Linked DNA regions of Homo sapiens: region 1 is linked to region 2. Evidence: fine-mapped expression QTL. A gene starts in region 2. The other region holds a variant in brackets. All regions are shown on one strand. Distances are between the middles of the regions. Region 1 overlaps ALOX5 (arachidonate 5-lipoxygenase). Region 2 holds the start of ALOX5 (arachidonate 5-lipoxygenase).

Region 1 (8,000 bases), 50 kb after region 2:
GATGATGAATGGATGGATGAAGGGAAGGAGGAAGGATGGAAGAAGAGGTGGATGGGGGATGGATGGAGAGATAGATGAGAAATTGATATACGGATGGATGGATTCATGGATGGTGGATGGATGGATGGATGACAGATAGTGAGATGGATGGATGGATAGATGGGTGGATGGATTGATGGGTGGATGGTGAATGGATGGTGGATGGATGGAAGTATAGACAGAGAGATGGATGGATAGATGGATGGATGGATGGATGGAGGAATTAATGGTGGAGTGAAGGCCAGACTGTGCCTTTCTTATCTCTGTTCAGTGTTTCTGAAGGTCATTGTCATCTCTGTATCTCAGGAGCCTCTGTATCTTAGCAGCTGTCACAGAATAGGTGCTCATTAAATCCTATTAAAATGAAAGTGTGACCCACCTGGCCCCTGAGTGCCCCTGAGTGCCAGCTGGGTCACAGTCCATTTTAACAGGGTTTAATGAGCACCTATCCTGTGGTATAGAAGGTAACTGTGCACCTCCTTTTCATGTATCCCCATCATGGCTAACAACAGCCTAGACATATGGTTCTCAATCCTGTGTGTTTAGTGTTACAGACTCCATGCTGCCCACTCTGCACAAACTGTGGAACCAGGGGAAGTCCAGCACAGTTATATTTTAGGGCTACTGGTGGATTCCAGTGTATAGCCAGGATTAAGAACACTGGCCTGTAATGCCTTTCTGGGCCTCCCCACCCCCCACATATGGTTGCATCTATTTGCTGAGTCAAGTCCATCTGCTGGGTCCCAGGGAGTGCCTCCTCCTCTCCCAGCTCCACCATCTCTCCTGAGTGAGGGCAGGAGCATCTTTCCAGCTGCCTCCCTGGGCTCCATCTCTCAAGACAGTGGGAGGGCTTATTCTCAAGTGCTTGTATAATTTGTTGGAGGCTCGCTCTAAAAAGTAAATATAATTTCTTGGTTGGCTCAATTGCAGGTGAGAGCCCAGATGTCTCTGCCCAGAAATGGAGATACATCCATAGGGACGCACCCGCCCCTGCCATCTCTCAGGTCCTACATGCATAGGATGCTCCACCGTGGGGAGCCAGCAGGGCTTTGCAGAGCATCTCTTGTCTCTGACCTAGCTGTTTCCTTTGCCACACCCACCCTCCCCACTTCTTGGCCAAGACATGGGTGAGGGGCCCCTTCTTGCAGAAGCTTCTAGAAGCCTCTGGCCCCAGTGAGGTCCCCTCCCCTGTACTCCCCAGTGCCGCCCACCCTGCCCTTGGCCCCAGAAGTGCTGCAGCCCACGTTTCTCCACATCGTCCTGTCATTAGCCCCTTGAGTGATGGCCTATTGGCAGGAGCAGAGCGAAGGAATCCTGAGAGGGGCCCTTCTGCCCCTCCTGGCCCAGCAGGCTGGACAGTAAGCTTAGCCCCACTCTGAGCACCGCCTCTGTGCTGGCACAGTGGATGGAGACCCTTGAGTTCTGCGGGGGAGAGAAGAGGTGTCCCTGTATTTGAGGAGCTGAGCCAAGGGGGCTGGACCACAAGGAAGCAGCTTAGAGGAGCCTGTGTGGGGATGAGGGGTGCCTGGGAGAGGGCCCTGGGCCGGTGGGGGTTGGGGGGACCCTAGGAAAGTCGTCTAAGTTCCCTGAGCCTCGGTGTCCTCAAATGAACAATGAGACCCGGCCCCAGCTCCTCCCCAGGGTTGTGAGATTAAAATGGGATCGCACACATCAGCCCCTCAGGGAAGTTTCTCCCTAAAGACAGCCTTTGTCTTCTCCATTCTTGGTTCAGGCCCTCTGGGACCGCGTCTCCACCATCACACACCGGCCTAGGGCTGCACTCTTGGAAGGGCCCCTGCGCTTGCAGGGTGGGCAGGGGACCCTCGCTTCACCTGGGCGTCCTCTCTGATGGGGCCCAGGAAGGCTTTGCAGCCGGGGGCCATCTGACCAGGTCTTACTGGGCCCAGGCAGAGGTACGTGGGGCCTGGAGAATGGCACAGGGGGCTGCAGCGGAGAGAGACTGTGGGCACAGGTGTGGCGAGGCCAGGCCGCCGAGAGCCAAGTGGTTTGCGAAATTTCCTGGTGGTGTGGAGGGAGGAAAAGCTGATGTGTTCACCTCCCCACTCGCTGTTTGCAGCCTGGAAGACGATTGCAGGGGGTGGCAGGGCTGAAAAGACAATGTCCTCATTAAAGGAAATTGAGAAAGAGAGTTTCCTTCCCAGTGGGGCGGGACAGTGCAGAAATGCGGCCGGTCCTGGAAGAGGTGGGGGCGAGGGGTCGGGGGCTCACACGCCCTGCGATTTCCTCCCATGAGAATGGGCGGGGGCAGCTCCGGGAAGGGTGGCGGATGGAGCCGCCCTCTCCCCAGGACCACAGGGGCGCTTTCCAGTGAAGGCGCCGTAGGAAACGCCAGTCTGTGCCGCAGTGTACGTAGAGGCGCTATGAGCCCGAGTTTCCCACGTCCAGGGACAAACTGGGAGCCGTGACTGTCAGGCCGCGCGGAGGCTGCCCTGGCCGCCTTTGCGGTCAGGTGAAGGCGCAGAGGCAGGGAGGCCGGGCGAGCGCAGGCGGGCGGAGAGCAGACCACGCGGAAGAGGCCGAGAGAGAAAGCGGGGCACCCGGCCGGGGGGGTCATTTACAAGGGACGCTGGGCACGAAGGAGGCTGGGGCGAAGATGAGTCCAGGGGTTGGGTTGAGAGCGCTGCGCAGCCGGGCTGAGAAGAGAAGCTGACGAGTGACTCCCGACAAGGGACGGGGGAGAGGGAACCTGGGGGCAGGCAGAGGCCTAGGGGGTGGGCTCTGAGGGCAGCCACTCCCACCGGCCCTCCCCCAGCCCCGCAGGCCAGCCACATGCCCCGTGCTCCAGACGACCCAGCTACATGGATGGCAGCGTCCTGAAGGGGGATGATCGGTAGGGAGTGGGTGCGGAGGCTCACGCCTGTAATCCCAGTGTTCGGGGATTCCCGAGCGGGAGGATCGCTTGAGCCGGGGAGGTGGAAGCTGCAGTGATCTGCGCCACTGAACTCCCGCCTGGGCGGCAGAGTGAGACCCTGTTTCAAAAGGCACCAGGGGTGTAGGGAAGGAGCGATATCCCCCAGGCAAGGAAGGCTGCGGAGGGGCCAGGCCAGGAGAGAAGGGCCCTGAGCTCAGTGGACGGGCAGGGTGCCTGTGGAGGAAGGGAGGGACGTAGCAGCAGGAGGAAGGGTGAGGACCCAGGCTGGGGATCGGGAGAAGTGATGGCGGAGGAAAGAGAGGCCGGAAGAGGAGGGGGCCTGCTGGCCTGGCACTGGAAAGCAAAGCGTGGGTTTGTATATGGGAAGAAGACCACATCCCCTCTTATCGTCATCCCAACTCAGAAACCATTTGGCCCCAAGTCACCAAAGCACTCATAGGAACCACTTTTCCTGTGACACAAGTAGGATTCTCCCACTTTTAACTTCCCAAATGCTACCCGAAAGCCTCTGAAATCCTTGGAAATTTAAAAAATAATCCCCTTCTATTAACTGATGCCTATAAAACATATTGACTTTCATTAAATTTTGTTATGAAATCAGGGATGTGTCCCATTGTAAAATAAATTTGTTTGGAAAATGTAGGGTGGTATCCCATCTAAAAATCAGACGAGGCTAGAAAATTTCAATTTTATTTGCTAAGGTAGCATCATGTTGTTAAAAATGCATCATAAAATAAGACCAAGAGTTAATACAAAGCATGAAGTCATGTTTCCCTCAAAAAAATGATTTGTTCTGTAGTCAAATTAATTTGGAAAACATTGCAAACTCTTCAGCAGTGGTTCTCAAAGTATAGCTTG[C/T]GTCAGAATCCCCTGGGGCCCTTGCTAAAATCTGGATGGCTACACTCCCCGCCTAGAGTGGGTTAAACTCAGTGCCCACTGGCAGGAAACTGAAACTTGGCTGAAGTCACCGAGGAGGCCTTCCCCGTTAAACCTCTGGCTGGCGACAGCTTGGTTTCCTCGCCGCTGCTTCTGAGTAATTCTGGCACGCAGTTCCTCCTAGCCACCTGCTGTACCTGGAAGGGGGCCAGCCCTCCTCAGCAGGCTTTGCTCCTGCCCTGCACAGCACAACTGTGGCGTAAAAAATGGAAAAGCTGGTAGCAGAAGGAAAGAGCAGGGAGACAGAGGTTAGGTGAACCTCAATGGCCTCATTAAAGCAAATTGAGAAAGAGAGTTTCCTTCCCAGTGAGGCGGGACAGTGCAGAAATGCGGCCCGTCCTGGGAGAAGTAGGGGCGAGGGGTGGGGGGCTCACCGGGCACATGGCCAACAGCTGGTGCCCAGCCTGGGCCACAGTTTGGCACAGGAGAAAGCTGAAGATGCAGGAGAAAGCTAGGTCACTGCCCCTAGGCCAGGTGATCAAGGTGGCTGTTACCTGCCTGTGTGGCCTTGAAAAAGCCTGGTGCCCTCTCTGGCTTGCAGGGTCCTTCTTTTTACAAAAGCGGGTCTTCGAAGCCCTGAATATTCCAGTTATCTGTAAGGATATAGAAATATTTTGCCTCTAGATGACATGTAAATATGTTCCTCCTAACTCCACTTCTTCCTACATCTGTGGCTTCTTCTGAGAACTACCAGACCCACCCTGTTTTCAGAGTAAACCTCCTGTTTTGAGGTCAAACAGACCCAGCTGGGTAATTGGTGACTCACTCCTGGTTCCTCCAAAGAACAGGGGCAAGGGACCACCCGGGACCTCAGGTGCCCCAGCACAGGACCTCTTTCTGGGGCACCCTCTGGCACTGGGCCATCTTCAGGCCCTACAGGGCTCTCGGGGCCTGCGTAGGCCTCTCATCTCCCAGAAATAAGTTCTTTTCCCCACCCAGACTGACACCAGATGCTACAGTGAGGTTTACCCCTCCAGCTTGACAAGCATTCCTAGCCCAGAACACTCAGCTGACGAGGGGTGCTGGGGGAGGAAGGAGGCAGCAAGGCTGAAAGAAGCTTCTCTGGGTATTCCAGTGCCTGGCTGCTGGTCGTAGCCATGGTGAGACCACAGCAGCCTCCCTGGAAGCAAGCACCTGTGTAAAAGCCCCTCCTTCCCCACAAGGGGCTGGATCCAAGTGAAGAAGGTACCAGAAGGACTGGAAGATGATGCTGGTATTATTCGACAGCTCCAGGGTGCTGTAGCACTGAGCACCTACTGTATGCAGCCCATCACAAAGCCAGCCACACTGCCCAGGCTGTGCCATGGCAACTTCCAGCAGTACACCCTCTCGGTCACCTGCAGGCTCCTTGTTCATCCTGACACATGAGGAGAAAAAGACAGTACTCACAAAGGCCTCTAGCCTTGTGGCCCCAGGACCCTCTCCTGAGCATCATGGCCTCCTAGGAGACCCAGGGTAGCCAGGACAAAGGAGAGAAGCATTTGCTAAGCTAAGAAAGGATGGAAGGGGATTGCTGTTCTGCCTGGATGCACCCCTAGACCTGGCAGGGCAGGCAGGAGAGACCCCCAGTGTCTCTTGCTTATCCTAGGAGTTCCCCCCTGTGGTTGCTCCAGTTTGCTGCCTTCATGCATGTTCACAGGGTGATTCCCCTGAGACAACAGAGCTGGGATGTCACCAAGCCCTGTGTCCCATCAGCCAGGCTCTCCCCAGCCTCCATCCTCTCATTCTGCTGGATCAGGAGGATGTGGGGAGGTCCCTGACTCCCCAGCTTTCCCCATGACAAGGTGTGTGTCTACAGCTCAGACCCAGCCATGCTCCACCTGAGAAGTGGGTCCAGGCAGAGCACTGGGTCCTGGCCACCTAGGGCTGCCTCCTCAGGGGTGGGCAGGAAGGGGAGCCACTGGAGGAGTGCCCCGGGCACAGTCCCCTGCACCAGGTGAGGTCACCTCTTAGTCCATGAGGCGATGCTGCATGAGCCCCTCTGGACACTAGAAGGCCTGGGCTCAATGCTGAGTAAAGTGCAGGCATGACTGTGCCCTCAGCATGCATAGGGCAGCAGGCATAGATTCATACACGTGAGTTTGCACTTAAGCTGCAGTAAGAGCTACAGAGGAAATGAACAGAGACAGCATCACTCCAGTGAGCCCTCCAGATACACCCCATGTGCGCAGTAAGAGAATGGCATAGTCTATTGGGACAGCCACATCAAAATACCACAGACCAGATGGCTTAAACGGCAGATATTTGTCTCTCACAGGTCCGGAGGCTAGAAGTCCAAGATTAGGGTGCCAGCCAATCCACTTGCTGGTGAGGGCCCTCTTCCCAGCTTGCAGATGTCTCTGTGTTCCCACAGCATGGTCACGTGGCAGAGAGAGGGGGACAGGGCATGAATAAGCCCTCGGTGCCTTCCTCTTCTTACGAGGATGCTAATCCCATCACGGGTACCCCACCCTCGTGACCTCGTCTAACCCTAATCACCTCCCAAAGGCCCCATCTCCTAATGCCATCACACTGGGGGTCAGGGCTTCAACACATGAATTTGGGGAGCACAATTTAGTCCACAGCAGAAAAGAAAGGGGCACAGAGCATTCCAGCCTGAAGGAAACAGATGTGCAAAGGCCCAAGGCAAAGGCCTGAGCTCTGAGGGGCAACCAGAGTCAAGGCTGAAGAGTGGGCAGTGATTGAGCACTGACGGTGGAGAGGCAACAGGCTATCTTGTTAATCTCAGTCTTTTGTGTGCCAGAGAGAGAAACTGAGGCACAGTGTGTCATGGTGAACACTGGGCAGCACTCCCACGCTCCTGTCCTGCACTCTGCAGGGTTATGGAGGAAGCCTGGGAAGTCTCTCCCCTCTTTTCCACCTTTCCTGGACCCATCCCACACCCTGCCTCCTCCAGGAAGCCCTGGGGATTGCTCATACACTCACATCTCACTCCTTAGTACCTGCAGCCTGCATTCTGAATTTAGCAAGCTCTGGCCTTGGGTTTCTATTTTCTTGTCCTGTGCAGTGAGCATTTGGAAACTTCTCCTCAGCACCAAACACGGAGCCATTTAGCAGAAAATACATGAGTTTTCAAGTCAATTGAACTGTTCATCGCCCCAAAAGCCAGGCAACACGGTAGAGCAGCTGGATCTCTGTTCGTAGAAGCTTTCTCAGGGACTGGCCCACCGAGTGGGGGACTGCAAGTGCCCGATGAGTGAATGAATGAACACATGTGTGAATGGAATTCAAGGCACTGCAGGCTATTCTGGAGGGTACTGGCCTGTCTCTTCGACAGGTGAGGTGCAGTAGAACAGCATCCCGTATAGATGCCAGTTTCTGACCTGGTTCTGAAAAGCCAGTCACCTACCTCTGCAGAGCTGCCTGGAGGGGGCGGGGGTTGTGAGGACCCCTGAGAGCTTGGTGTGAAGGGGCTCTGCAGAGGGAGGCATGGCTAGTGTGCGCAAGGTGACCTCTCTCCTGGTCTGCAGGATGGAGAACCTGTTCATCAACCGCTTCATGCACATGTTCCAGTCTTCTTGGAATGACTTCGCCGACTTTGAGAAAATCTTTGTCAAGATCAGCAACACTATTTCTGGTGAGTGTGCCTCTGGGGGCCCAAGTGGTGCTGGGGACAGGGGATGCTGCTCTCCTGTCTGATACTTGCCGGGAAATTGACAAGGGCCTTCCTGCCTGCTGCAGCATGGGGGCCTCGCTGCCACCATGCCACCCTGGACAGCACCCCCTACACTCCACACCTTTTACCATCACTGTGGTCACCCTTGTGCCCAGAGGTTTCTCCTCCTCAGATATTCAAGCTCGAGCACCCTCAACCTCATTTCACTATCAAAAGTCTCAAAAGTATCAGAACTTTTTCTTGGCACAAATCAATCATTTGTGCTTCTGAACAGAGCAAAGGCAGAACTTGGCTTGTGTTTTAGGTATTTACACAAAAGCAACTTTGGGTTCCTTTGGACTAGGATGTGTTTGATGAGAGCACTAGCTTCATAGTGGCCAGTCATGGCATGGGAAGGACGTTAGGAAGGCAGGAATGGCTGGACAAGAAGAGGTGCTGAAATCAGGACATGGGGAACCAAACTTGGCAAACTGCCCCCAGGGACTCTCCTCCACGCCCTCCTTCTTCCATCCTGGA
Region 2 (14,731 bases):
ACCCCCGAGCAGCCTAACTGGGAGGCATCCCCGAGCAGAGGCAGACTGACACCTCACACAGCCGGGTACTCCAACAGACCTGCAGCTGAGGGTCCTGTCTGTTAGAAGGAAAACTAACAAACAGAAGGACATCCACACCAAAAACCCATCTGTACATCACCATCATCAAAGACCAAAAGTAGATAAAACCACAAAGATGGGGAAAAAACAGAGCAGAAAAACTAGAAACTCTAAAAGGCAAAGCGCCTCTCCTCCTCCAAAGGAATGCAGTTCCTCACCAGGAATGGAACAAAGCTGGACGGAGAATGACTTTGACGAGCTGAGAGAAGAAGGCTTCAGATGATCAAATTACTCCGAACTACGGGAGGACATTCAAACCAAAGGCAAAGAAGTTGAAAACGTTCAAAAAATTTAGAAGAATGTATAACTAGAATAACCAATACAGAGAAGTGCTTAAAGGAGCTGATGGAGCTGAAAACCAAGGCTCGAGAACTACGTGAAGACTCAGGAGCCGATGCGATCAACTGGAAGAAAGGGTATCAGCGATGGAAGATGAAATGAATGAAATGAAGTGAGAAGGAAAGTTTAGAGAAAAAAGAATAAAAAGAAATGAACAAAGCCTCCAAGAAATATGGGACTATGTGAAAAGACCAAATCTACATCTGATTGGCGTACCTGAAAGTGACGGGGAGAATGGAACCAAGTTGGAAAACACTCTGCAGGATATTATCCAGGAGAACTTCCCCAATCTAGCAAGGCAGGCCAACATTCAGATTCAGGAAATACAGAGAACGCCACAAAGATACTCCTCGAGAAGAGCAACACCAAGACACATAATTGTCAGATTCACCAAAGTTGAAATGAAGGGAACAATGTTAAGGGCAGCCAGAGAGAAAGGTCGGGTTACCCTCAAAGGGAAGCCCATCAGACTAACAGCGGATCTCTCGGCAGAAACTCTACAAGCCAGAAGAGAGTGGTGGCCAATATTCAACATTCTTAAGGAAAAGAATTTTCAAACCAGAATTTCATATACAGCCAAACTAAGCTTCATAAGTGAAGGAGAAATAAAATCCTTTACAGACAAGCAAATGCTGAGAAATTTTGTCACCACCAGGCCTGCCCTAAAAGAGCTCCTGAAGGAAGTGCTAAACATGGAAAGGAACAACCGGTACCAGCCGCTGCAAAATCATGCCAAAATGTAAAGACCATCGAGGCTAGGAAGAAACTGCATCAACTAACGAGCAAAACAACCTGCTAACATCATAATGACAGGATCAAATTCACACATAACAATATTAACTTTACATGTAAATGGACTAAATGCTGCAATTAAAAGACACAGACTGGCAAATTGCATAAAGATTCAAGACCCATCAGTGTGCTGTATTCAGGAAACCCATCTCACGGGCAGAGACACACATAGGCTCAAAATAAAGGGATGGAGGAAGACCTACCAAGCAAATGGAAAACAAAAAAAAGGCAGGGGTTGCAATCCTAGTCTCTGATAAAACAGACTTTAAACCAACACAGATCAAAAGAGACAAAGAAGGCCATTACTTAATGGTAAAGGGATCAATTCAACAAGAAGAGCTAACAATCCTAAATATATATGCACCCAATACAGGAGCACCCAGATTCATAAAGCAAGTCCTGAGTGACCTACAAAGAGACTTAGACTACCACACATTAATAATGGGAAACTTTAACACCCCACTGTCAACATTAGACAGATCAACAAGACAGAAAGTCAACAAGGATACCCAGGAATTGAACTCAGCTCTGCACCAAGCAGACCTAATAGACATCTACAGAACTCTCCACCCCAAATCAACAGAATATACATTTTTTTCAGCACCACACCATACCTATTTCAAAATTGACCACATACTTGGAAGTAAAGCTCTCCTCAGCAAATGTAAAAGAACAGAAATTATAACAAACTGTCTCTCTAACCACAGTGCAATCAAACTACAACTCAGGATGAAGAAACTCACTCAAAACTGCTCAACTACATGGAAACTGAACAACCTGCTCCTGAATGACTACTGGGTACACAACGAAATGAAGGCAGAAATAAAGATGTTCTTTGAAACCAATGAGAACAAAGACACAACATACCAGAAATTCTGGGATGCATTCAAAGCAGTGTGTAGAGGGAAATTTGTAGCACTAAATGCCCACAAGAGAAAGCAGGAAAGATCCAAAATTGACACCCTAACATCACAATTAAAAGAACTAGAAAAGCAAGAGCAAACACATTCAAAAGCTAGCAGAAGGCAAGAAATAACTAAAATCAGAGCAGAACTGAAGGAAACAGAGACAAAAAAAACCCTTCAAAAATTAATGAATCCAGGAGCTGGTTTTTTGAAAGGATCAACAAAATTGATAGACCGCTAGCAAGAATAATAAAGAAAAAAAGAGAGAAGAATCAAATAGATGCAATAAAAAATGATAAAGGGGATATCACCACCGATCCCACAGAAATAAAAACTATCATCAGAGAATACTACAAACACCTCTATGCAAATAAACTAGAAAATCTAGAAGAAATGGATAAATTCCTCGACACATACACTCTCCCAAGACTAAACCAGGAAGAAGTTGAATCTCTGAATAGACCAATAACAGGAGCTGAAATTGTGGCAATAATCAATAGCTTACCAACCAAAAAGAGTCCAGGACCAGATGGATTCACAGCCGAATTTTACCAGAGGTACAAGGAGGAACTGGTACCATTCCTTCTGAAACTATTCCAATCAATAGAAAAAGAGGGAATCCTCCCTAACTCATTTTATGAGGCCAGCATCATCCTGATACCAAAGCCGGGCAGAGACAAAACCAAAAAAGAGGATTTTAGACCAATATCCTTGAGGAACATTGATGCCAAAATCCTCAATAAAATACTGGCAAACCAAATCCAGCAGCACATCAAAAAGCTTATCCACCATGATCAAGTAGGCTTCATCCCTAGGATGCAAGGCTTGTTCAACATATGCAAATCAATAAATGTAATCCAGCATATAAACAGAACCAAAGACAAAAACCACATGATTATCTCAATAGATGCAGAAAAGGCCTTTGACAAAATTCAACAACACTTCATGTTAAAAACTCTCAATAAATTAGGTATTGCTGGGACGTATCTCAAAATAATAAGAGCTATCTATGTCAAACCCACAGCCAATATCATACTGAATGGGCAAAAACTGGAAGCATTCCCTTTGAAAATTGGCACAAGACAGGGATGCCCTCTCTCACCACTCCTATTCAACATAGTGCTGGAAGATCTGTCCAGGGCAATCAGGCAGGAGAAGGAAATAAAGGGTATTCAATTAGGAAAAGAGGAAGTCAAATTGTCCCTGTTTGCAGATGACATGATTTTATATCTAGAAAACCCCATTGTCTCAGCCCAAAACCTCCTTAAGCTGATAAGCAACTTCAGCAAAGTCTCAGGATACAAAATCAATGTACAAAAATCACAAGCATTCTTATACACCAACAACAGACAAACAGAGAGCCAAATCATGAGTGAACTCCCATTCACAATTGCTTCAAAGAGAATAAAATACCTAGGAATCCACCTTACAAGGGATGTGAAGCACCTCTTCAAGGAGAACTACAAACCACTGCTCAACGAAATAAAAGAGGATACAAACAAATGGAAGAACATTCCATGCTCATGGGTAGGAAGAATCAATATTGTGAAAATGGCCATACTGCCCAAGGTAATTTACAGATTCAATGCCATCCCCATCAAGCTACCAATTACTTTCTTCACATAATTGGAAAAAACTACTTTAAAGTTCATATGGAACCAAAAAAGAGCCCGCATCACCAAGTCAATCCTGAGCCAAAAGAACAAGGCTGGAGGCATCACACTACCTGACTTCAAGCTATACTACAAGGCTACAGTAACCAAAACAGCTTGGTACTGTTACCAAAACAGAGATATAGATCAATGGAACAGAACAGAGCCCTCAGAAATAATGCTGCATATCGACAACTGTCTGATCTTTGACAAACCTGAGAAAAACAAGAAATGGGGAAAGGATTCCCTATTTAATAAATGGTGCTGGGAAAACTGGCTAGCCATATGTAGAAAGATGAAACTGGATCCCTTCCTTACACCTTATACAAAAATTAATTCAAGATGGATTAAAGACTTAAATGTCAGACCTAAAACCATAAAAACCCTAGAAGAAAACCTAGGCATTACCATTCAGGACATAGGCATGGGCAAGGACTTCATGTCTAAAACACCAAAAGCAATGGCAACAAAAGCCAAAATTGACAAATGGGATCTAATTAAACTAAAGAGCTTCTGCACAGCAAAAGAAACTACCATCAGAGTGAATAGGCAACCTACAGAATGGGAGAAAATTTTTGCAATCTACTCATCTGACAAAGGGCTAATATTCAGAATCTACAAAGAACTTAAACAAATGTTCAAGAAAAAAACAACCCCATCAAAAAGTGGGCAAAATACATGAAAAGACACTTCTCAAAAGAAGACATTTATGCAGCCAACAGACACATGAAAAAATGCTCATCATCACTGGCCATCAGAGAAATGCAAATCAAAACCACAATGAGATACCATCTCACACCAGTTAGAATGACGATCATTAAAGTCAGGAAACAACAGATGCTGGAGAGGACATGGAGAAATAGGAATGCTTTTACACTGTTGGTGGGGGTGTAAATTAGTTCAATCATTGTTGAAGACAGTGTGGCAATTCCTCAAGGATCTAGAACTAGAAATACCATTTGACCCAGCAATCCCATTACTGGGTATATACCGAAAAGATTACAAATGGTGCAACTATAAAGACACATGCACACGAATGTTTATTGTGGCACTATTCACAATAGCAAAGACTTCTAACAAACCCAGATGTCCATCAATGATAGACTGGATTAAGAAAATGTGGCACATATACACCATGGAATACTATGCAGCCATAAAAAAGGATGAGTTCATGTCCTTTTCAGGGACATGGATGAAGCTGGAAACCATCATTCTCAGCAAACTATGACAAGGACAGAAAACCAAACACCGCATGTTCTCACTCATAGATGGGAACTGAACAATGAGAACACTTGGACACAGGGCAGGGAACATCACACACCAGGGCCTGTTGGGGGGTGGTGGACTGGGGGAGAGATAGCATTAGGAGAAATACCTAATGTAAATGATGAGTTGATGGATGCAGCAAACCAACAGGGCACATCTATACCTATGTAAGAAACCTGCACTTTGTGCACAGGTACCCTAGAACTTGAAGTATAATAAAAATGAAAAAAAGAAAATGTTACTAGCAAATTGTAGATGGGTATACCTAATATAACTCTGCATGTGCACTATGTGTCTGGATACACATGGAAAGTATTCAGGCATACACACCAAATTGTTAAAATAAATCCCCTTCCAACATTAGGAGTGGCTGGGGAGCAGATGGCTTTCACTTCCGCACATTCCATGGTGCCAGGGTAATACCACATCACAATAGTAAATAGCAAAAATAACAACCTTAAGTTTAGATTTTCTTATCTAAATTTTAATTCTGTGAAGAAGTTTCCATTTCCCTTTTTCACACAGGATAGTAGAATGCAGTTTAGAAAGAGTGAGATCACTTGTTAGACTGTACAATTTTTAAGCATCAGCGAAGTATACCATTAAACTTCTCTATCAATCCATTCTCTAAACTTCCCAACCCAAAAAAAAAGAAACACATAAAATTGAAATGAAGAAAACAATACAAAAGATCAACAAAAATGAAAGGTTGGCTTTTTAAAGAGATAAACAAAATTGACAAATGTTTAGCCAGACTAAGAAAAAGAGAAGGCCCAAATAAATAAAATCAGAGATGAAAAAGCAGACATTATAACTGATACTGCGGAAATTCAAAGGATCATTAATGGCTACTATGAGCAACTGTATGCCAAACATTGGAAAATATTGAAGAAATAGATAAATTCGTAGACACACGCAACCTAACAAGATTCAACCATGAAGAAATTCAAAATCTGAACAGACCAAAAACAAGTAACAAGATCAAAGCCATAATTAAAATTTTCCCAGCAAAGAAAAGCCTGAGACCCAATGGCTTCACTGCTGAATTCTATCAAACATTTAAAGAACTAATACCAATCCTACTCAAACTATTCCAAAAAGTAGAAGAGGAGGGAATATTTCCAAACTTATTCTATGAGGCCATTACTGCTCCTATATCAAAACCAAGGACACATCAAAAAAAGAAAACTATAGGCCAATATCTCACATGAATATTGATGAATCCTCAAAAAATGCTAGCAAACTGAATTCAACATCACATTAAAAATCATTCATTATGACCAAATGGGATTTATCCCAGGGATGCAAATATGGTTCAACATATACACATCAGTCAGTGTAACATATCATATCAACAGAATGAAGAAGAAAAACCATATGGTCATGTTAATTGATGCTGAAAAAGTATTTGAGAGAATTAAACATCTCTTCATGACAAAAACCCTCAAAAACACTGGAGACAGAAGGAACATACCTCAACACAATAAACAGACATATATGACAGACTCACAGCTAGAATCATACTAAATGGGGAGAAACTGAAAGTCATTCCTCTAAGATCTGGAACAAGACAAGGATGCTCATTTTCACCAGTGTTAGTGGAACATAGTACTGAAAGTCCTAGCTAGAACAGACTAGAGACAGAAATAAGGGGCATCCAAACTGGGAAGAGAGAAGTCAAATTACCTTTGTTCGCAGATGGTATGATCTTCTGTTTGGAAAAACCTAGACTCCATAAAAAAATGATTAGAACTGATAAATTCAGTAAAGTTTCAGGATACAAAATTAACATACAAAAATCAGTAGCATTTCTATATGTCAATAGCAAACAATCTGAAAATGAAATCAAGGAAGTAATCCCATTTCCCATTTGCAATAGCTATAAATAAAATTAATATAATCTCATCTCTTCAATAAGTGGTGTTGGGAAAACTGCATATCCACATACAAAAGAATAAAATTAGACCCTTTTAATATACAAAACTGGACCCAAGTTAATATACAAAAATTAACTTGAAATGAATTAAAGACTTAAATGTAAGATCTGAAACCAAAAACTCCTAGAGAGAAACATAGGGGAAAAGCTCCTTGACGTTGGCCTTGGCAATAATTTTTTGGGATATTACACCAAAAGCACAGACTTTTGAAAAAATAAACAAGTAGGACTACATCAAACTAAAAAGCTTCTGCATGGCAAAAGAAAGTCAACAACATGAAAAGGCAACCTACAGAATGGAGGGAAATATTTGCAAACCATATACCTGATGAGAAGTTAATATCAAAATATAGAAAATATATAAGGAACTCACATATCTCAATACCAAAAAAATAATAACCTGTTTTATAATGGGCAAAGGACCTGAATAGACATTTTTTCAAAGAAGACACACAGATGGCCAACGAGTGCAGGAAAAAGCGTTCAACATCACTAATCATCAGGGAAATGCAAATCAAAACCACAATGAGATATCACTCCACACCTGTTAGGAAAGCTATTATGAAAAACACAAGAGACAATGAATATTGGCAAGGGCATGGAGAAAAAAGAACCCTTGTACACTGTTGGTAGAAATGTAAATTGCAACAGCCTTTATGGAAAATAGAATGGAGGTTCCTCAAAAAATAAAAATAGAACTACCATACAATCTAGCAATTCCACTTATGAGTGTACATCCAAAGGAATCAAATCACTATGTCAAAGAGATATCTGTACTTCCTTGTTTATTGCAGCTTTACTCACAGTAGCCAAGATAAGGAAAAAATCTAAATGTCCATCAACGGATAAAGAAAATGGGGGGAGGGGTGTGCATGTATACATACACAATGGACTATTTTTCAGCCATAACAAAGAAGGAAACCCTGCCATTTGTGACGATATGAATGAACCCAGAGGACATTATGTTAAGTGAAATAAGCCAGACACAGAAATACAAATATTGTATGATCTCATTTATATGCGAATCTAAAAATTTCAAACTTGAAGACGAATAAGTAGAACAGTATTTATCAGGAGCTAGGGGATGTGGGGAAGAAGCAAAATATTGGGCAAAGAGTATAAACTTTCAGTTATGAGATGAAGGCCAGGTGCGATGGCTCATGTTGGTAATCCCAATACTTTGGAAGGCTGAGGCAGAGGGATTGCTTGAGACCAGCCTAGGCAAGAAAGTGAGACCTCATCTCTACAAAAAATAAAAATAAAAGAATCAGCTGGGAGTGGTGGCATACACCTGTAGTCCCAGCTAGTCAGGAGGCTGAGGGGGGAGGATCATTTGAAATTGGAAAGTCAAGGCTGCAGTCAGCCAAGATAGTGCCACTGCATTGCAGCCTGGGTGACAGAGCGAAACCCTGTCTCAAAAAAAAAAAAAAAAAAAAGATGAATAAGTTCTGGGGATCAAATGTACAGCATGGTGACTATAGTTTATAACTGCGTTATTACTTGAAATTGGATAAGAGCAGATTTTAAGCATCCCCAGCACCCCCCCAACATACACACACACAAATGGTAACTATAGGTGGTGATAGATATGTTAATTTGACTGTGACAATCAGCATTCAATATATACATATATCAAATCATCACATTTTACCCCTTGAAATAGAAACTTTGATTTGTCAATCAAATATTTTAAAACGAAAATAATCATAATATTAATATAGCATACAGGAAAAAATTTCGTATCTCGACTGATACAGAAAATTTCATGATAAAAACACTTTAAAACAAAAGAAATAAAAGGGAACTCCCTCAACCTGATAAATGGCATCTGTGGAAACCCCCAGCTAGCATCAAACTTAATACAGAAAGGCTGGGTGTTCACCTCTTGAACCAGGAACAAGACAAAGATGCCTGCTTTTGCCACTTCCATTTGACCTTGTACTGAGGTTCTGGCTAGGGCAATTATCCCTGAAAAAGAAATAAAAGGCTTCCAAATAAAAGAAGAAGTAAAACTATCTCTACTCGCTCATGACATGATCTTGCATATAGAAAATGTGCACATGTACACACACACAAACCATTAGAACTAATAAACAAGTTCAGCAAGTTTGCAGAATATAAAATGAATGTACAAAAATCAAGTGTTTTTCTATATACTAGCAATTAACAATCTCAAAATGAATTAAAATTCCATTTACAATAGTATCAAACATAAATTATTTAGAAATAAAAAGTGCACTGAAAACTACAAAATATTTTGAAATAAATCAGAAAAGATTTAAGTAAATGGATCACTTGAACCTGGGAAGCAGAGGTTGCAGTGTGCCGAGATTGTACCACTGCACTTTAGCCTGGGCAACAGAGGGAGACTCCAAAGAGTCGAAAAGAAAAGAAAAGATTTAAATAAGCTGAAACATATTCTATGGATCAGAAGACTTAATATTGTTAAAGTGACAATATTCCCCAAATTGATCTACAGCTTCAACTCAACCCCTATCAAAATCCTAGCTTGCTTTTTGGCTGAAATTGACAAGCTGATTCTATAATTTATATGGAATCTCAAAGGATCCAGAATAACCAAAACAATATTGAAAAATAAAGAACAGCGTTGGTGGATTAACATTTTCCAATTTCAAAACTTACTATAGCACTGCGGTAATCAAGCAGTGTGGCACTGTATAGCATGTACATTACAGATCAGTGGACTAGAATCAATGTCCAGAAATAAACCGTTATGTTTATAATGAATTACTTTTTAATAAGGTGTCAAGACAACGCAATGGGAAAAGAATAATGAATTCAACAAATGATGCATGGACAACCGGACATGCACATGCAACACAATGAATTTGAATTCTTCTATCGCTCCATGCATAAAAACTAACTCAAAATGGGTCACGGATGTAAATGAAAAGCTAAAACTATAATAATCCTAGAGGAAAACCTAGGAGTAAATCTTTAAGATGTTATTGTAGGCAGTGGTTTCTCAGATAGGACCCCAAAATCACAAGCGACAAAAGAAATTGGACTTAAAGTTAAATACTTTTGTGCTTCAAACATCATCAAGAAAGTGAAAACACAACCCGCAGAAGCAATAAAAATGTCTGTAAGTCATGTATCCGATTAGAGACTTCTATCCAGGATATATAAATAATGCAATTCAATGATAAAAAAGATAAATAGCCCAGTTTTCCAAAGAGTCAAGCATCTGAATATACATCTCTCCAAAAATATACAGATATCCAACAAGCATGTGAAAAGATGTTCAAAGCCATTTGCCAGGTGCACAAACCCAAGACAGTATGAGGAGATGCTACAGGGACTCTGCTGCTTCACAGACATGAAGCGTTGGTGAGAATGTAGGCAGCCGCCTTTGGGGACTTCACATCCCCGCCGCCCCACGCACGGTGAGCTAGTGTTTAAACTTAGCCGAGATCAATACACGCGACTGTGTGCCCGTCAGACCCTGCGCTGCCGGCGGGGCTGGGAGAGGCGGGCGCCAGGAGTGGGCGGGAACCTGGGGGTCAGGCCCCAGCCGCGGGAAGCCGCCCAGGAGCGCGCGAAACCTTCTCCACACCCTTCCAGGCATTTGCCCGCCGCGATTCAGAGAGCCGACCCGTGACCCCTGGCCTCCCCTAGACAGCCCCGCATGTCCAGATGTGCCGTCCCGCCTGCCTCCCGCGACCACTGGCCATCTCTGGGCCTGGGCGCGGTCTCGGCGCCCGCCTGCCCCCGCCAGGAGCCGCAGGTCCAGCCAGTGAAGAAGCCCGCGCTGAAGGAGCCTCTGTGCTCCAGAATCCATCCTCAGTATCAGCGCTGGGGTGGCCTCCTCCAGGAAGCCCTTCTGATTCTCTCATGGGTCGCTCTTCCTCTGCAGACTCCCGGAGCACCCCTGCTCCAAGTACCGCAAGTGGCACTGAGAACTTGGGGAGAGCAGAGGCTGTGCCTAGATTTGTAGGGAGTCCCCGCAGCTCCACCCCAGGGCCTACAGGAGCCTGGCCTTGGGCGAAGCCGAGGCAGGCAGGCAGGGCAAAGGGTGGAAGCAATTCAGGAGAGAACGAGTGAACGAATGGATGAGGGGTGGCAGCCGAGGTTGCCCCAGTCCCCTGGCTGCAGGAACAGACACCTCGCTGAGGAGAGACCCAGGAGCGAGGCCCCTGCCCCGCCCGAGGCGAGGTCCCGCCCAGTCGGCGCCGCGTGAAGAGTGGGAGAGAAGTACTGCGGGGGCGGGGGCGGGGGCGGGGGCGGGGGCGGGGGCAGCCGGGAGCCTGGAGCCAGACCGGGGCGGGGCCGGGACCGGGGCCAGGGACCAGTGGTGGGAGGAGGCTGCGGCGCTAGATGCGGACACCTGGACCGCCGCGCCGAGGCTCCCGGCGCTCGCTGCTCCCGCGGCCCGCGCCATGCCCTCCTACACGGTCACCGTGGCCACTGGCAGCCAGTGGTTCGCCGGCACTGACGACTACATCTACCTCAGCCTCGTGGGCTCGGCGGGCTGCAGCGAGAAGCACCTGCTGGACAAGCCCTTCTACAACGACTTCGAGCGTGGCGCGGTGAGCGCGGGCGGGGCACGGGTGGAGCGCGGGCTGAGGTGCGTCCGGGACCCGGTTTGGACGGCAGAGGCCTGGGCGGGGGCGCCGAGGGCCCGTCGGGGCGGCCCGGACAGGACTGGGGGTGTCCAGGACCCTGTCAGGGAGGGCAGAACTGCGGTGGGGCGTGCCCTGGGCTCCCAGTGGCCGGTGGGTACCCTGGTGGGCAAGCGTCCAGGACCCCTCGCGGCGGCCGCGACCCCTGTCGGAAACGGAGACTTCCCGCGTGCCGCCTGCAAGGCGTCTTCCCTGGGAGGAGAAGGCCCAAGGTTTCCCCTCCACTTCAAGATCTGGGCTCCGAGGCTCCGGAGCCCCCTTCACTGGGCCGCGTTTCTTGTGCCACCTCTTCCTTAGGCTCCTTCTGCAGGTCGCACAGGGAGGGAGAGGCAGATGAGTCATGCTCACAGAACTCTGAGGGCACCTCGGAGCAGCCAGCTGTGAGCCGTGGGGAAGGGTGCACGTCAGCGGGTCCAGAGGCCTGAGTTCTGTCCAGACATGACCACCAGCTCACTCTACCGTCTGTCTGGGCCTCAGTTTCCCCAGCTGAAAATGGAGGGTTGGCTTCAGTCTGGTCCATGAGTCATGGGTGAGCCCAGGCCCATCTGGTGGCTCAGACGGCACCTGGGCAGCTTACATTCTCAGGACAGTCCCCAGAGGAAATTAAAGGGAAGGAACAGAACCCAGGCCAGGAGAGGCTTTTCCTAAATGGAGGGGCTGCACTCCCTCCCAGCAGAATGTACACCAGGGAACACTTCCACGCTAGGTGTGAGGACGCGAGGGAGCCCTCAGCATTTGGAAGCTAGTTCCTAATGCTGATCTGGACCTGAATTCCAGCCCCACGACTCTTTTCCATGAGCATGGGCAGGTCGCAGTTCTCACTGAGCCTTTAATGAAGTGCCTAATCCAGTACCTGGCACAGAGGAAGCGCTCCGTAAATGACTGGTAATAGTCCCAGACATACTGCAGGTGCGCAGGGAATATCAGTTCCCTTCCACCCCACCCCAGCTCCTAACTGGACCAAAAAGATTTAGACTTTACCAAGCTGCCTTCTCACCATTTAGTTTATTATTTGATCAAACCTTGTGAAATTGCTCATAATGGACAAATACAACCGGCAAGTTCATGTTTCAACTGATTACTCTTGGATAAAATTTGTGTTTTAGGTGTGCAGAGCCTAAAGTAAGTAAAAACTACTCTTTTTCTGGATTCCAAGCTCTCCATGGGCTCGATTCCTATCCAGGAGCCCATACCCTCGCTGTAGCACGACATGGCCCTCAGCCAAGTTCACTAGCATCCTGGCTTGAGCTCCCTTCAAGAAGAGTTAGGTGTTGAGTACAAGAGCAACCTTCAGTTGCTTAGTTGCCCCAGTCGGGGAACTGACCCTGAGGACTGCGGTGCCCTGGAGTTAATGTGTCGTCCATTTAGGGTGATGGCACCCTCTGCCATTTCTGACGCACCTTCATTTACTTCCATTATTTCATGGATTCCCCACACCTGGGGGAGAAGGACAGGGTACAGGCTACTTCCCCTTTGTAAGTGCTTCCTCCTCCCCATTCTCCTCCACACATCATAAGGTTCTAGAAGCACAGGCCATTGGTGTGCTCACACTGCACAGCACGGGCACCCCGTGTGTGCTTTCCTCCTGCAGGGGACATGATAACGTGGCCATAGCGGGCTCTTCGGACAAAGAGTGAAGGCACTGTTTTGTCCACTATCTCCCTCTCTCGGTCTGTCTTCCCCTACCCTGAGAAGTCATTCAAATGACATTATAATTAAACACCTCAGCCGGAATCCCAGGGGCAAATTTCAGGAGAGATTTGCATGTCACATTTCCATTGGGTTGAGAGGGCTATAAGTCAGGGGTGGGGCGGGGGGTGGTTGGGGGTGGGGGCTACCGCAGGGTGGGGAACCAGCTAAGGCTGAAAGTTTCCTTGAAAAAATCAGCTTTTGAGAAAGTTCCTGTTGATGCAAAGTTACTCAACACTTTCTCTTGCCCAGCCCAGAACTACTTCCTCATTCTCCCAGCTTGGTATCTGTAAAGACAATCATCCTTTTTGGGTAAAGGTAAAAGAGAAACCCTAGAGGAAGTACTTGCTGAGAAGACAAGGTTATCCCATTTTACAGGGAAAAGTGTTAAAATCTGTATTGTTAACAGTAGTAACGATAACAATAACAATAAAGGTATTTCCACACAATTTAATCATTTCCAAGTTATTGGCAGGTCAACACCCCCCTCCTCCAGGGCATAGTTCAGTCAAATAATGGACAGGACTGATTTTTTCCTTGATAAAGTGAGTCACAGGTCCCTTGTTATTCTCATCAGAGTTCCGCATAGTGATTCAGTCAGGACTGGGAATCAAGTCCTTCGCAGGTGGGATTATCCTATAAACGGTTGTGTCTTCCTTGGCTCCTCACTGTCTGCTGGAGAAAGCCGGGATCCTACACAGAATGGCCCTGTTTCCAGAGGCTAACCCAAGTCTAGGCAAATTTAACAAGTTGATTTATTTCTTTAACTCTGTAAATTTAAAGTAATTCAGATCGGATACGATAACTGTAACAGATCTGAAGATTTCTGAGAAATCTTAGTTGGCCCATTTCATTCTGTGCTGGTACTTTTAAGAAAGCTAAGGGCAATAGCGTGGTGTTTAATATATGATACTTGAATATGTTCAACAAGTGTAGAAAAGTGTTATAATGATTCATGCTTCTTAAGTCAGTGAGTATTCTTACATTCATGAAAAATTAATTCTAGAATACCTCCTTCTTGTGAATGGGAATATATTAGTGGAGCATAAATATTTCTTTGGTATGACCCTCAATCCGTCTCTCATCTCCCAGTCTCCCCCTCTGAGCCATCTTTTCCCTACATTCTGCCCCCTCTTCTGCCTCCTCTTCCTTCCCCTGCTCCCAGTTCCCTAAATGCCCCCCGTTTCTGCTCTCTACCCTACAACTCTCCCTTCTTTTTTGCTCTGAATTTTCCTCTACACTCTGTCTTCCAGCCACCTCTCAGAGGCCCCTTCTCTGCTCCCTCAATCTCCGGCTCTCTGTCCCACATTTTCCCCCTTCTCTGCCCCTTGGTCTCCCTATCCACTACCCCAATCCCTCTCTCCGTCCCTTGTTTTCCTCAGCTCTTCC

The links.
Region 1: its variant is fine-mapped to the expression of ALOX5 in whole blood (TOPMed, PIP above 0.99).

The regions. Positions count from the first base shown.
Region 1 is chr10:45,416,703-45,424,702 of GRCh38, forward strand. It overlaps ALOX5 (arachidonate 5-lipoxygenase), which reads left to right. Exons shown (of 14, transcript NM_000698.5): 5 at 7,339-7,445. Among named protein-coding and RNA genes, the nearest start is that of ALOX5, 46 kb to the left of the region's middle. RefSeq lists enhancers at 2,237-2,930, 2,931-3,622, 3,651-4,152. The variant C/T (reference allele first, on the strand shown) is at 3,791.
Region 2 is chr10:45,362,870-45,377,600 of GRCh38, forward strand. It overlaps ALOX5 (arachidonate 5-lipoxygenase), which reads left to right and starts at 11,347. Exons shown (of 14, transcript NM_000698.5): 1 at 11,347-11,560. The coding sequence starts at 11,411. RefSeq lists enhancers at 11,115-11,725, 11,726-12,334.